Homo sapiens: one gene and its partner. The protein of the gene in region 1 interacts with the protein of each later gene in a pairwise test. Each region holds a gene or a part of one and is shown on either strand. Other genes may lie near its edges.

The links. Proteins that work in one complex are often made in the same cells at the same time.
Region 2: the proteins of CCDC68 (region 1) and CEP170 interact in binary tests that used the Homo sapiens proteins (3 or more experiments, as listed by UniProt).

What each region holds. Positions count from the first base shown.
Region 1 is NC_000018.10:54,927,892-54,935,710, forward strand, and holds part of CCDC68 (coiled-coil domain-containing protein 68), read right to left. Parts: intron 7,058-7,819; coding exon 6,929-7,057; intron 992-6,928; coding exon 909-991; intron 1-908. UniProt on the Homo sapiens protein: Centriolar protein required for centriole subdistal appendage assembly and microtubule anchoring in interphase cells. Together with CCDC120, cooperate with subdistal appendage components ODF2, NIN and CEP170 for hierarchical subdistal appendage assembly.
Region 2 is NC_000001.11:243,189,123-243,196,941, forward strand, and holds part of CEP170 (centrosomal protein of 170 kDa), read right to left. Parts: intron 2,373-7,819; coding exon 1,896-2,372; intron 1-1,895.

The DNA of each region.
Region 1 (7,819 bases):
TAAAAAAGGAAAGGAAGCAGCAGGGAGCCTGTAGGGGGGAAATCGAAAGACTGAGAAAGAGGGATGTCTGAGCACACATCATTGAATAAATGACAACAATTCTGTCCATAATGGTGCCTGATACCCTAGTGAACAACAGTTCTAGGATGACAAACTAAGATCTTGAAATCGATTTGACTTTGAACAATATTATATAATTATATCGGAACATACAATGACTGTGTTGGACTTAGAATTTTTTAAAAATAAAGAAAAATCTCATAAAATGTCTTATGATATGATTTATTACATGATAATACAGAGACTTTTTCTAATAGCGGCTGAGTAGCACAGCGATTATGGTGATATCCACAAACCCATCCCCAGCATACTGAGGACTGTGACTGCTTGTGAACTTTGAGTATTTATAAGTAAGTCCAAAGGACTAAGGATATTGTCCATAGCATTTCCTTCACCTTACAGAATTAAGGAGTATCAGGAAACTGTCTTAGAATTCTGCTTGTGGGCTGGCCAGTGTAATATCTGCTGTAGAAGTGACTCATTAATAAACACAGAAGCATCAGGGAATAAAGATCTCTCAAGCGTCCTCCTTAGCACAAATGGTAAACCAGGAGGTGCCAGGCTCACTCACTCATTCACTCTTTAGAAGGACTAACCTTCCTGCAGGGTTCCCTGCACCCCCAGTGAACTCTGCCCCCGGCTCCCAACTGCCCTGTGATTCCTCTGAGTTTGAGGAAGGGGAGGCACATAACTACATGACTGTTAATCCCAAGAATTCAACCTTCCTCCTGCACTGTCAGTCATCCTATTTCTTTGGGGGACAGAAGGTCTTCTGTTCCCTGGCTGGCATACCAGTGGACAGGAAAGAAATCAGGAACTGCCTTTACTTAACAGGTAGCTTCACAAACCTTTTTCCATATGTAGCACTGGATTTGAGTTGCAGTAGCTTGTTTTCCAAAGACAGTTTTCTTTCTAGTAGTGTTCTCTTTTCCTAGGAGAAAATAAGATACAAATTTTGCTAAACTGCATGTGTATGTTTGGTAAGGCCTTCCTCTTGTCATACTATAACTATGGCTTGAGCTAAAGAGTTAATTTCACATGTGCTGTTACTCCTCATCTTCAAGGAAACCTGGCCAAGTATTCTCCTGTGTGCTTTGCACATAGTTCAACTATAGGCCAAAAATAGTTGTCTTCACTCTCTCACCTGCCTGGAGGACTTCTTCTGCTCCTCCTCCAGGGCATTGCCCATAGCCTGTTCAGCTCAACCTCTCCCACTAATCTCTCCCCATCCTACCACATGTAAACATCCTGCCCATCTCTCGCTAGACCCTGGCTCTCCCACCCTTACACCTGTTTCGCCTACATTAGACTGACTTGTTGGTATCCAAGGACACTAGATACCTCTACATACTACTTGGCATCTGTCAGAAGGTAGTAAAGCAATAAACATGTTTTTGATGAAGGATCAAGGCCACAAAGGATACAACTGCTTTCCAATTAGGATACAGGAGAAACTGAGATTGCAATTTTATGATGCTAGGAAAGAATATCTTTTAAAAAGATGCCTTAATTTGATTATTAAGCCAAAGCTTTTCCATCCAAAAGGAAAACAGACAAGACCATGAAAAACGAAGCTGAGATGACTGTGTTCATTTTATATTTGATGGCACTCAGCTGAAAAAAAGGAATTTGGTGCTTTGGCCTGATGGTTTAGGTTGCCAAGTTGGAAAGAATCAAGGGAGATTGAAAAAAGGCAGGAATTGGTATTGGCAACATGGATGGAATTGACTGGAAGAGGCGTGCCGAAACCATAATGCTGTTTAAAATTACTTCCCGCTGCAGCATCTGAGTGAGTGGTACACAGCAAGGCAGTGCTGTATAGAAGAAACATCACAAAGACTGTACATAGGGACTTACCTGGTTTCTAAATTTTGGCCGAGGTTTTAAACTCTCTGGGCCTTACCAATGTTAAGAAAAATTAACCCAAACTTGGAAATAAAAACAATATACAGCATGCAGTTTTAATATCATATTGGGTCATCATTTAATCATCTGACCCAAGATTTATTTAATTCTCTCAGAGAATTTCCCTGTGTTCGCTTTTATTATTTATTATTTCATTAGAGCCCTGAGTCTGTGAAGTTGCATGTAAATTTGTAGATTTCTGTCCGGTAGAAGACATAATCCCAAAGGTTATGATTTAATTGCCTTAAAGAATATTAACCATTTTTTAAAAATTTAATCTAGTACTCCTATACTATTTTTCACTTTTTCTCCAAAATGCCTATAAATGGCTAGTTTCTGAAAATATTTTATTTAAACCAGCTTTCTCATCTTACTGTTTCCCTCATTAATTAATGAGTTAGTTACAACATTTGACTTGTATTCATTCTATATTCATTTGACTTATATTTGTATCTTCTGAGCATTCCTAAAATGGGGATAATATTACCTATATTGAAATGTTGGGATAATAGAGATAATATATGTAAAAGGCATACAGGCTTCCTGGCACATATTTGGACCTCAATATATAATAATTTGAAGGCACTAATTACTTCAAATCTTAATGTGTTCTGTTATGTTTTAAAATTAGCTTTTTCAAATTTTTCTTATAGTATTCTTGCCAGATAGAAATTGTCCTGGAGTTTCCCTAGCTGTGTTCAAATTATTTCTGAAGGATCACAGATACTCACTCCCTTCCTTCCTTCCTTCCTTCCTTCCCTTCCCTTCCCCTCCCTCCCTCCCTCCCTCCCTCCCTCCCTTCCTTCCTTCCTTCCTTCCCTCCCTCCCTCCCTCCCTCCCTCTCTCTCTCTCTCTCTCTCTCTTTCTTTCCTTCTTTTTTATACAGAGTTTTGCTCTTGGTGCCCAGGCTGGAGTGCAATGGTGCGATCCTGGCTCACTGCAACCTCCGCCTCCCAGGTTCAAGCGATTCTCCTGCCTCAGCCTCCCGAGTAGCTGGGATTACAGGCATGTACCACCACGCCCGGCTAATTTTGTATTTTTAGTAGAGACGGGGTTTCTCCATGTTGGTCAGGCTGGTCTCGAACTCCTGACCTCAGGTGATCCACCCGCCTTGGCCTCCCAAAGTGCTGGGATTACAGGTGTAAGCCACTGCGCCCGGCCCACAGATACATCTTACAAGCGTATGATAAGGCTTGGATTGTCAAAAAAAACACACCACAGATAATGTATTTTGAATTTGTAGGGTGAGGGAAAATAGTGCCTAACAAATGTTAAATAGACTTACTCTTGGTTAATGGATTTTCATAAACAGGGGTCAAGGGGACCAGACAACCGGACAAGTAAATGCTCTCCCTTGGCCAGGCTCTGCCATCTAGCTTGGGTTCTTTTTGCCTCCTCTTTGACAATACAGAAAATCTCACCATACCAGATAGCGCTTCTCAGGCAATGTCTTCAGGAAAGGGAAAGGGAGTTCACAGCACCACACAGTGGGCAACCCCACTATTCCCAGAGCCATACCTCCAGACAGCTCCAGGTTTCCCTCACCAGGCTGATCGGAGAGGGCACCAATTTCAATCATTGCCAAATGCTAACATCTAAATGTTTTGGAACCAAGTCTATCATTTTTGTCCAGCATTAGAGAAGACGGGGGCATAATGGAAAGGGTTGTGATCTAGAAAGTGGAGGATTGTGGAATAGTTTCTGGTTCATGCTGTCCTCATTTATAAAATGATGATGAGGAACTAGGTGGTCTCAAAAGTGCCTTTGAGCTCTAAAATTGCAATGGAGCTAAATCAATGACACTAGAAAACAAATATGATGTAACAGAATTGCACTGCTAGCAAACGGAACATATGCCATATTAAAATGCTCTTATTGGGCATTTTTGCTAGCTTATCACTGTGCTTATGGAATTCATTCTCACTGCATTCCTGATTAAAGTGGGACAGACGGTGAAGGTTTTAAGTAATATGTTCATTACCAGACCTCATACTACTAATGGCTATTTACTGGAGCGGTGGATTGTTCAAGTGAGTAGCAAGTAAATTTTTCTCCAGGGGGCACCTACGACCAGGCCAATATTTATCAACCTTTGTGAGGATGTTTGTTTTTAAGTTTTACTTTCTTTTTGAACTTGTGTCTTTTTCCTATTAATACAAAAGGCCCAGTACACCCTCCCCTTACTCTGGCTTGCGCTCCCCACCTGAGACACCCTTCCTCACAGCCTGTCTTCTCAGTCTCTCTTTAAACCAAGAAGTTGCCAAACTTCATTCCTTATAGTTTTATTTATTTGCTTGTTTCACAAATATAAAATATTTTTAAACCAATTTGGTTTTTTTTTTTTTTGAGACAGAGTCCTGCTGTATCACCCAGGCTGAAGTGCAGTGGCGTCATCTCGGCTCACTGCAGCCTCCACCTCCCAGGTTCAAGTGATTCTCATGCCTCAGCCTCCAGAGTAGCTGGGACTACAAGCACATGCTACCATGCCCAGCTAATTTTTGAATTTTTTTTTTTAGGAGAGACAGGGTTTCACCATATTGGCCAGGCTCGTCTTGAACTCCTGGCCTCAAGCGATCCTCCTGCCTCAGCCTCCCAAAATGCTGGAATTACAGGCGTGAGCCACCACACCTGGCCTAAATCATTTTTTATTTTAAATAAAACTGCACATTTCCCCTCCACATCATCCACACTTACCTCCACCCTCCAGAGATTCCAGTAGGCTTGCCCTCCAGAAAGTCACTGAACTATTCTGGAAGGTTGCTGCATGGCCTTACTAAGCCATGTGCATCCTGTCTGCTTCCTTTGTCCAAGATCTCCTGGAGACAGCCCACTGTTGCGAGTTATTATCAGGGCAGGAGATAGGCCATCACTTCCCAAGAATGTCCTGCCAGGATCTGAGCCACTGAACCTTATTCTGGGGCATGCTCCTCTGCCTTTGACTGGGCTTTCAGCCTCCCTAAAGGACTCATAGAGGAATTAAGAAAGGGAGATCTGGGAAGTTCCTTGAGCCTCACACAATCCAGATATACTACATTGTCATCTCCACAAAAAGAGACTGTCTGGTTCATTCACAAATATATATTCAGCCCCTAGTTCTATGCTACACATGGTGGTGTTCAAATATTTGTTTAGTAAACAGTCAAGTAAATATACCCCAGAACTCTGAGATGAACTAACATCTAGTACACATTTCTTGGGATTACTAGGAAATAGAAATTATCTTCCACTGTTCTTTCTTTTTTTTGACACGGAGTCTCGCTATGTCACCAGGCTGGAGTGCTGTGGTGCAATCTCGGTTCACTGCAACCTCCGCCTCCTGGGTTCAAGCAATTCTCCTGCCTCAGCCTCCCAAGTAGCTGGGACTAAAGGTGCGTGCCACCATGCCCAGCTAATTTTTGTATTTTTAGTAGAGACGGGGTTTCACCATGTTGGCCAGGATGGTCTCGATCTCTTTGACTTCATGATCTGCCCACCTCGGCCTCCCAAAGTGCTGGGATTATAGGCATGAACCACCATGCCCAGCCTGTTCTTTTGTTAATTTGGGGGCAGTGACGGTTGCCACTAAACCTGACCAATATCACTGGGTTTGAGATGGCGTGAGCTCTAGACTAAACTTAAATTTTAAGCTGGTTAATCAAGTTGTTTGGTTAAGCAATTTATTCGTTTCCCAGAATTGTCTTTCTTTCCTTAATGCAAACATTCTTTGTGCTATCTTAGTTTTGTTAAGCTATTTATTATAGGATCAAGTATTCTACCACTACCAAGTATACAACCAAATATTACAGTTTTTCCAACACAGCATAATTATAAATTGTCATGCCTGGATAAACTAATTGCTTAAGGAGACTCTAACCCAGTGATTCTGCTAAAGTATAACACTCAGTGACCTTCCACATAATACACATGCAGCTGAATATTATCTTAGAGCCACTTGATAATGGGCATATTTAATTTTTGTGATTTCCTCATAGGAGCTTCACCAAGACTACAAATTCAACCAAATCACAATGTCATAAAACTTTAAATTCTTGGGAAACATTTTTAAACAAATCAAGTTTCCTTTGGTAAGAAACCTGAATATTGAAATGTGATGTTTTTGAAATGACATTTATAAAATGGCATAAACCCAGGCAGACTCATAAAACAAATTAAAGCTAAAAAGAATACAGGCAAATACAATAAATATAAAAAATGTATTGGGCAATATTTACTAGTATCCAAAGCCTATATTTTTCTCTATCCCCAATTCAGTTTCAGAGATGCCAGTTTTCTCTTTGTTTTGCTAATAAAAAATATTCCTTGATTTGTCCAAATTCTAAATTCTATGGCATACATACACAAATTTATGTGTTCACCTTTTGTGTATATTTTGAGTGCCAGCTACTTAAATGAACATGGCATGAAACATTTTAAAATTTTTCTTCTATTATTGCTCTTCTCTAAATATGCCTTCTTAAAGTTCCAATTTCTATAGAATAGATTTTCTTAATGTGAACTGTATCTCTCCTAGTGCAGCCGTAGGTTTTTCCAAACACAAAGTAGACTTGGGTGGCCAAAAATGGATACTGCACTGACTCTAATACATAAAAATGCTGTGATTACAGGGAACTGCTACATTATTACTCCTAATAGATGGACTTTGTGATCTTTTCCATTATTTGCATTCACAGCCTCACCTGGTTCCCCTTTCTAAGTCACATATTTCCTAGAAAGAGAAAGTGACAAATGATGATATGACTACAGTATTTGCAGAAAGGTAAATCAATCACCACAGTATAGATCATATGAAATGTTTATGGGAAAAATTAATATTAAATACTTCCTAAGGCCAAGAATTGTAAAGAATACTTTCACATAATATTATCTTATTTAATTTAATATCCTATTTATTTTAGTATTATTTTATTTCATTCTCATCCTAATGCTGTCAGTAAGAAAATCCTCTAATTCTCCAGGGGCGTACCTTTTCCATTCTCTGTACAAGGTTCTCCAATTCTGTAATTTGACTGTGTTTTTCTTCAAGTTTTTCAGCAACTTGATTCAGATTTTCAACATGTTGTTTCAATTTCTGTTCTTTTTCAAGCTTGTTAACCTATGGTCAGAGAATCAGTTGTGTTGTGAAAACTCTGTTTTTCTTAAACCTATACACATATTACCTCTTTCTATAATTTTCTAATTAGCCAAAAAAATTCAGAATTCATACTTGTTTAGAATTACTCTTTTGATTTCAGTGTTTACTTCAAAATAACCCTGATAGACTACAACAACATTAAATAGAGAATTAATAATGTATAAATATTCTTCCTAGAATGTTTCCATTTGTTACCATAAAGCATACTTCCTGAACAGGTATAAGAGAGAAAGATGCTAATTTAACGAAAGCAACATTTTTGACTTTTTCTCAACAATTATTATCCAGAACAAAAAAAACCTTACATGTTCAATTAAAACACGTTTTATGTTTAATTAGAAAGTGTCATAAAAGCAGAATAACTCCTCAGTGTGTCATGGTGCTACTTCATAGGCATAGAGCAGGGGTTGTTCTGAACCATCATAGGAGAGAAGACTCCATCTAGCAGGCAGTAAGCTACAGTGGGACTGTGTCGACTAACTTGTTACTCTTCTGTGTGTGTATTTAACAAAGCTTGACATTTCACAGGGAAAAATAAGTGTCTGGCTTCCCTTGTAAATACCAAGTGGGCCTTCCAGTCAGGTCACTCCAGGCTGGTGCCGAGCCCACATTACAGGGATGCACACTTCCCGTCCCCACAAGCGCCCCCATAGCATAGCACCCTCATCCGCTTCCCGCTTATGTTCTTCATCTGCACCCAGCATGCATGTGAGTTTGCAACCA
Region 2 (7,819 bases), on another chromosome or scaffold:
AATTTCTAGTAAGGGCTTAAAAGATCTAATCATTAAAATACAGATATAGTATACATGTGGACATTAATCCCTCTATTTGGAATTAGGCCCACAAATGGGCTTGTGAGGACAGAACGTTTTAAAATAATGGCTTAAAAATAATAGTCGATACAGGCCAGGCGCGGTGGCTCACGCCTGTAACCCCAGCACTTTGGGAGGCTAAGGTGGGTGGATCACGAGGTCAGGAGATCAAGACCATCCTGGCTAACACGGTGAAACCCCGTCTCTACTAAAAATAAAAAAAATTAGCCGGGTGTGGTGGTGGGCGCCTGTAGTTCCAGCTACTCGGGAGGCTGAGGCAGGAGAATCGCGTGAACCCAGGAGGCGGAGCTTGCAGTGAGCCGAGATCGCGCCACTGCACTCCAGCCTGAGTGACAAAGCGAGACTCTGTCTCCAAAAAAAAAAAAAAAAAATAGTAGTAATAATAATAGTCAATATAGAAAATAGTTATAATGACTAAGTTATAAATGGGTTTAATAAAGGTATTTTTAAAATGATTACCTTTTAAAAGGATATTTTACCTCAGTTTTTGTTTATTAAGAGTGGTTTTAAAAAGTCTAAGTTATTTCTAAATTCTCAAGGTTCAGCTACCTCTTATACTGTACTAGGAGATCAATATTATTTATCCAATTCATATAAACAGCCTATGTGTTTGTGAGTGTTAACCTACAGAAACAAAATGTCTCAATTACGTATTGTCTAGAAGTAAAATGTCACAATCATGTCTCAAAAATACATATGCCAGGTAACTGCTGATAACTATAATTAAATATTGTGATAGGCTCCAACAAATAATTAGGTAATCACATCATCTCACTGTCCGGAAATGTCTTAGAAGCAAATCAGAAATAAGTATACAAATACTATTTCTTCATTACTTGATCAGAATGCCAGGACATAAGGTACAGATTAAATCAGGGACAGTCTTGTCATTGACAGAGAAATCGCCCATTGTTTTCAAATTAGTACCTATCACATGCTCAAGTACTAGATGAAGTGTTAGGAGTACAAAAACTCCTAATATAGTAACAGAATGGTCAGCTAAACGTGTAATCACAATTTGTTCAAAATCGTTTTCCTTATAGATAGCTTATTAAATAAAAGATAGGGTAACATAAATCTATACTCAATTCTAAAATAAATTTAATTGGCAAAACCAATGAGAAAAAACTGATCAGCTGATACATCAGTGTACAAACATACAAATTGTACTAATTTTGGCTAAGTTCTACACAAATAAAGTATATATAACTATTTCAAAAATGAACATTCAACTCTAATTTTCATGAAGTCCTAATATTAAAAAAAATTTTAAAACTGGATTAATAGATCCTACCAAATATTTCTAAACCAAAAATCTTTGTTTTATGAGTAACCACTGAGAATACTTTGAAGCGCTCCATCAATGATGTGACTGCATTACCAAAGTAGAACTTTTGGCTCAGACCAAATGACTTAAAATTTCTTTCAGAATCTAGATATTGATCTCAATAGAGAACAGAATTGAATATATCTTTTCCTTAAATCAAGAAAATGATGGAACTCATCTTCTAGGGAACTCTACTGGTAAACTTAATAAATCTTATATTTCTAGAAGAAAAAGAAACATGTTTTATAGCATAAATATAAGCTCATAAAACCAATCTGGTTTTGTCAAGAAAATGAAGGAAGACTATTTTGAATGAGGAAATTGGACATGGGCAGTGTAGCTTCCTGTTTAGTTTTAAGACTAAATATAACCTTTGAAAAAAGCAGAATGTTTTCTACCATGTAAGTATCTACTAGTAGTCTAGTAAATGAAGACCAGATTTTCTTTATCGTAAAGTAGGAAGTTCTGAATGATCAAATCACTTTACCTTTCAACCTTTTCAAGTACACTGGAACATCACTTTTAATGCTTTTAGAATCCTCTTCTGTTCTTTCCCATAGCATTTGAGGAGGGTTGTTTTGTGCTAGCCAGTCAGCAACTTTGTTTTCGGGTGCCATCATTCCTGTTTGAATCCCCAGCAAGTCTTGAGTTCCAGGAGAAGACTTCTTGGACTTGTGGCGCTGATCAGAAGTAAACTTTGTCACATGGTCTCTAATAGTTACCTTCCCTGGGGTACTGTCATCAAATTCAATGGTAAATGAAGCATGCCCTGCACCTGTTATATGGGAACTTGGCGTGTCTTTTGTTGGGATTTCATGAATAGTGCTTTCTGTTATTTGTGATGGTTGCTGGAATTCTTTTGTAGGGATTTCAAAATAACTTGGTTCCCTACAGAAAGGAAAAAGTACTTCTTCATTTGCAGCTGCAGATTGTTCCTCAACTTGCTTGGCATCTATGCCGCACCCTAATGAGAAAAATAAGAGAAAATTCAAAATATTTGATTGCTTCTGGCACTTGAGGGAGTCTGGTAATGGCCATGTGTACTACTCCGTGAGAACCAGAAGGCAGATCACAGTCTGGATGAAAACCAATGGCATTTATATCACAGAACAAATGTCACAGAGAAGAAAGAATCTTGATTATAAACATGCGATTTGATTACCAATAGGGGATGGAAGATAAGCAGCAGCAATGGCAAATGAGAGCAAAGCAGTTAAGAAATGGATCTTGCATGGCTAGGTCCATATTTTTTCCAACCTGGATCTAGAATTCATCAAGGTCCAAAAGAATTAAAATAAAATGTAGATGGAGATGCATGTTCAATGTATATATAAAAAGTGACAGAAAAACCATGAACTCCCTTCTCAAGTCGCCAAGATGAGATATCTGAAATATATATGAACACATGTAGTGCTCCAAAGGAGAATAGGTGCTCAAATGAGAATACAAACATGAAGTAAATATGTAAGTGATCTTCTGGAAGTAATGATTCCACTTACCATTCTTCACCATTACATTCGGAAACATTACTTTCAGAATGACAAAGATATTGCTGAAGTGCGATCCTTGCAAGAAGATACAAACATTTTATAAAGACTAAAACATGTGGTTTGCAATCCAAGCAGCAGTGTGAACGAAATAAGGTTAAAATAGGAAATTCAGTTTCCAGACAATAACTCTGGAAGTTTACATTTCCATACAGCAGAATATGCAAAAGTGTCAAAATTCCTTGGAGGAAAGCTGAATTGTAAACCTCAGATTAACATGAGTTGGCAGAAGGAGCAAGCAACTCTGGAACACTATCACTATTCTTCTGTTGCCTCAGAATCTAATACAAAAGTATAGAAACAGATGCATTTATGAATAAAATACATAAATAAAAATGACAACTAAAACGTTTTCGGTACGCAAATGCAAAATAAAAAAATTAAAGATGCTATTGTCCTGTTGTTGAAGAAGCAAAGCATGTCCATTATCAAAATGAAGAGCAAGTTGAAATGAGACATATTTCCCTAAAGCTCAAAAATAAATTCTGCTTTTAAACAGATTAATAGAAAAATCACTTACAGACAATTTATTAGGAAAACAAGGCAATACAGGGAGACTAGGTTGTTTCCAAACATTTTCTAATTAAGTGAAGCGTTTGGTCTTTTGAAACATCTTTTCAAAAATTAAATTTTAGTGGGATCTGTCAGGTACTATAATTGGTTTCTTGACAGCAGTCTGAATATGAAATAATATAAAACCTGACTGCTTTTAGGTTACAGAAGAATGATATAGTAACATCTCTCTTTCATAATCAAATGTGTGGGATAGGGCACGGAAGACAACAAGCTCCATTTCCACAATAAATATAATAATAATAAATTGTCAAAAAAATCTAAACACAAGGCAAAGAGAACATATAATATGAAAGAATATATTGTAATTTTCACTGTGAAAAATTATCCCTTTTAAAATCTACTCAGCTTTCCTATCACTGAACATGAAAGAAAAGTATTGGAAAAACTCTACATTATCAGAGAAATAATCATACATTTATATGACATGACCTAAGTTTAAAAAAATGTTTGATTAAAGAGTTAATTTGTCTTTTTCTTAAAAATAAAATGTTCAGCTGGACTTGTGAGTGTTTACTCTGAAGTCATGTTAGTTAAAATTTCCATTAGAATAAAATGTATTAACTGCTTCTCATATATTAATAGTTCATTAATGTTATTTTTCTATTTTTTCAGACATTGATTTTTTTTTACTATGCACAATGTACTGTACTTGATCAAGTCCATACAGTACAACTGGTTCATAAACCTGTCCTCTCTCCCTCCCCCCATATAGATATATACATATAGTTTGTTTTTGCTTTGCTCATCCTTCAGGTGACAGAACAACGTCAAGATGGTAGTTTCTAATACCACTACACAGAGAGCCAAATAAAACTGATCCACTATACAGAGAGCTAAATAAAACTGATGTGGCTCAGCTATGAAGCAACACAAAAAAGCTGGCCAGGGATATAGCACTTATCAAGGTCACCTGTTTTGAAGGTCACCATTCCCATGTTAGTACTACTTCAAACTCGCATTCACTCAAAGCTAGAAACTTGAGACTTATACAAGTTAATAACTAATTCATCTAGAAATCAAGTACCTAACCAGGTCAAGTAGCACAATAGAGTGGAAAGGCAGCAGACTATGATCTGATGATCATAACCAGGCAGCCTGGTTTCATGCAAAGCCCAGACAAGATCTGAAATCAGATAAATCTTATCCCTAATCAGTCTGTAGTCCTCATTTTCCTCATCATAAAGTGAGAAAACAGTATCTTCCCATAAGATTGTTGTGAAGATTTAGTGAGATGAGTATTAAGTGAGATCATGTAAGTTACCCAGAACAAAGCAGGTACACAAATAAATGCTTCTCCCTCCACCTTCAAAAACAGCTGAGAATCAGGAAGACAAAAAGCTAATACCAAAACCCAACTCTAAAAAACCCAAGACAGATATGACAATGCCTATCCTTGAATATTCATAAACATTACTAACAGTTAAGATCTTCACCGAGAGGTTTTTACTATTTACTCAGATCACATGTAGCAAACCTTGGGCAGGGTACAAAAGTGAGGATTAAGGACAGACAAATTGCACCAAGTGGTAGAGACAAGATGAAAAACAAGAGCAGACAAATGGCCCCAAAAACATGATAGTCCAGTACCATTCAGTATATAGGGCAAACAGTCTTATATACTACAGTCTCCTGAGGACATTACTGTAAGGCAGTATCAGTATTATTATATTACTAATATATTTGATTATTGATTATATCAATATTGCTATTGCTATTGATATATATAATAGTAATACTGATATTGATGATTGATGATTTTGAGTCATAAGAAAAAGTTTTAAATTATACTGAAACTTCTCTGCTTAAGAAGGTGGTAATATGGGTAATTAATTTAATAGAAACTTAGGAAATGGTTAAACTTCAAAAAAACTATCAACTGTAAAAGTAAAGTTCAATCATCTGGAAAATTCATTATGTGGAAGGATTCATTTCCCTAAAGATGATAAAAACAGATGAAGTGTGGTCCAACTACACTTGAGAAGTACCTAATAGAAAACTATAAGGGGTCTTCTAATCAACACAGAAAAATAAAACACCTTTCCTCCCTCAGAACACTAACAGAACATATTCTGGAATTTAGAAATTTAACATTCATCTATCTTCAAAACTCATTTTGTTATACCAAATGAAACTAAATAATAGAGTAAATACTTGTTTAGACTAATATTATATTATTAATCTCAATTACTAGATTTTAAAAAATTATTTAATGATTGATTATGCCATAATTAATTCCATATATCTCAATCAGAAAAGCAATTGGTGATAATCTGCTTATGTTCTTAAGGTATTTTATGACTGTGTTACCTTAACACAATATGTTATAAGGGATACTTATACTTCATCCAGAATAAATGTTCTTTTCATTCTTCTGTACTAAATTCAATGAAATATTAAACTTATTTGAGATGACAAGGACTATAATTATAACAGCTCATTCTGCTTAAGACATCCATCTAACCTAGTCTGTTCAAGCATGTCAAATTAAGAAGACTGGGAAGCTCCTTTTGCTTAAAAGGAGCTACGACTTGAAAATTTCCAAATTTAGTTTCGCTGGATTAAAAATCAACATGAGAGAGCCAAAAATCTATGATTCCCAGTTGCACATGCCATTTCAAAATGTGTGCAACAGTTAAAGGCCTTTAATTATAACCTAAATTAATTGTTGAGACCAAGTTAGGAGGTAGAAAAGCATAGCTGTAAATAAATTGAGGACAAACTTTACGTCTTAATACGATTAAAAATAGTCACACAATTTCTGGAGAACGAAATTGCTCTAAAGTAAGTATTTGCTTAAACCAGGGCTTTTTAAGCTATATGGCAAGTCTTCGGGAGTTTCTGGATATATATGAACCCACAGAGAGGAACGTTAAAAATTACTAGGTAGCAAACACTCTATTATCCTTTCTGGAATGCAACTCTAAAAATTAATAACGAAGAAGCAAATCACTTTTTGCTTTCACTAAGAGTATGCTACAGGATAAATTATTAAACTAATCACGTATATTCCACAATTTGAAACTTAAAAAAAAAGTTTAAGTTTTTAAAAATACCTTAATTTCAAAATGACCACATTAAAGAACACTTGATATACATTTCAAATCTGATTCTACAATTTCTGCTGGCTTCATAAATTATTACAAGACAGTAAACTATTTTCCTCATCCTATATTTTAAAAAGCTGCAAATGATAAATCTGAAACAGTAATATCCTCATACTAACATAAGAAAGCAAGTGAGAGTCTCTTAAGGCTATTACTAATCAGCTGTATCTGACAGGGCACTTTAAGGAATTTGACACAAGACATAAATCACTGAATTATTACTCAAAAAGAACCCCAAGATCATGAGACGGCTTTTGGTCATCTAGCAGAAAGAGTACACAAGCTGAGAATTCAGTTACATTCATATAGATGAAAGTATTGCTGGATGCTTCACATTTGAAATTTATTTTATTATGCTGAGCTAGGAGGGATCAATTTTTATGGCTATTTGATTTTGGAGTATTTGTTTAAATCTTTGTACCCTATGAAGTATATCCTTTTAGAGTGATTGTGTTTACAAGAGTAATGATGGCTGAAATATTAAAACTTCTTATGGTTAAGAGCGTGGACTCAGGAGTCAGGCAATCTAAGTTCAAATCCCAGCTCCATTATTTGTAGTTGGGTGACTTTGACAAGTAAATTAATTTCAGTATGCCTCAGTTTCTTTATCTACAAAATCACCGTAACTGTACCTTTAGGTATTGCTGTGATGATTAAATAAATGCATACAAAGCACTCAGAAGAATGTTGGATAAAGTAAACCCTACTGAAGTGTTAGCTATTACTGTAAATCATGGTTGTGCCTTCTGTACAAAAATTACATATACACTTCACTGTATGTTAGAAGTTACGCGCTTCAGATTTCAAAAGCTGTTTTGTGTGTGACAGGGGAGGGCTAAAATTTTAACGGCAAGATAAAAATTACTATCATACTGATTTTCAGAGTTTGGTGATAATTATATTCAGCTATGTTTTCTTAATCACCTAATTGGTAAATCTTTCCCCCTCTCAGTACTAGGTGGCTCTAGGGCACAGTGATAGTATATTATGCGGTACTTGAATAAGACATGTATAGTTTAGCTGTGGGGAGGAGGCACACACACAACATAATGAATGAAACTGTAACGTACTGACGATAAATATACAGACATCATTTAGAATGTATCTCTTTGTCATTTAATGTATGTGTGTATTTATGTCTGTGGGAAAAGAGCAGGCAGGAATTAGCATAATTTATGGGGGAT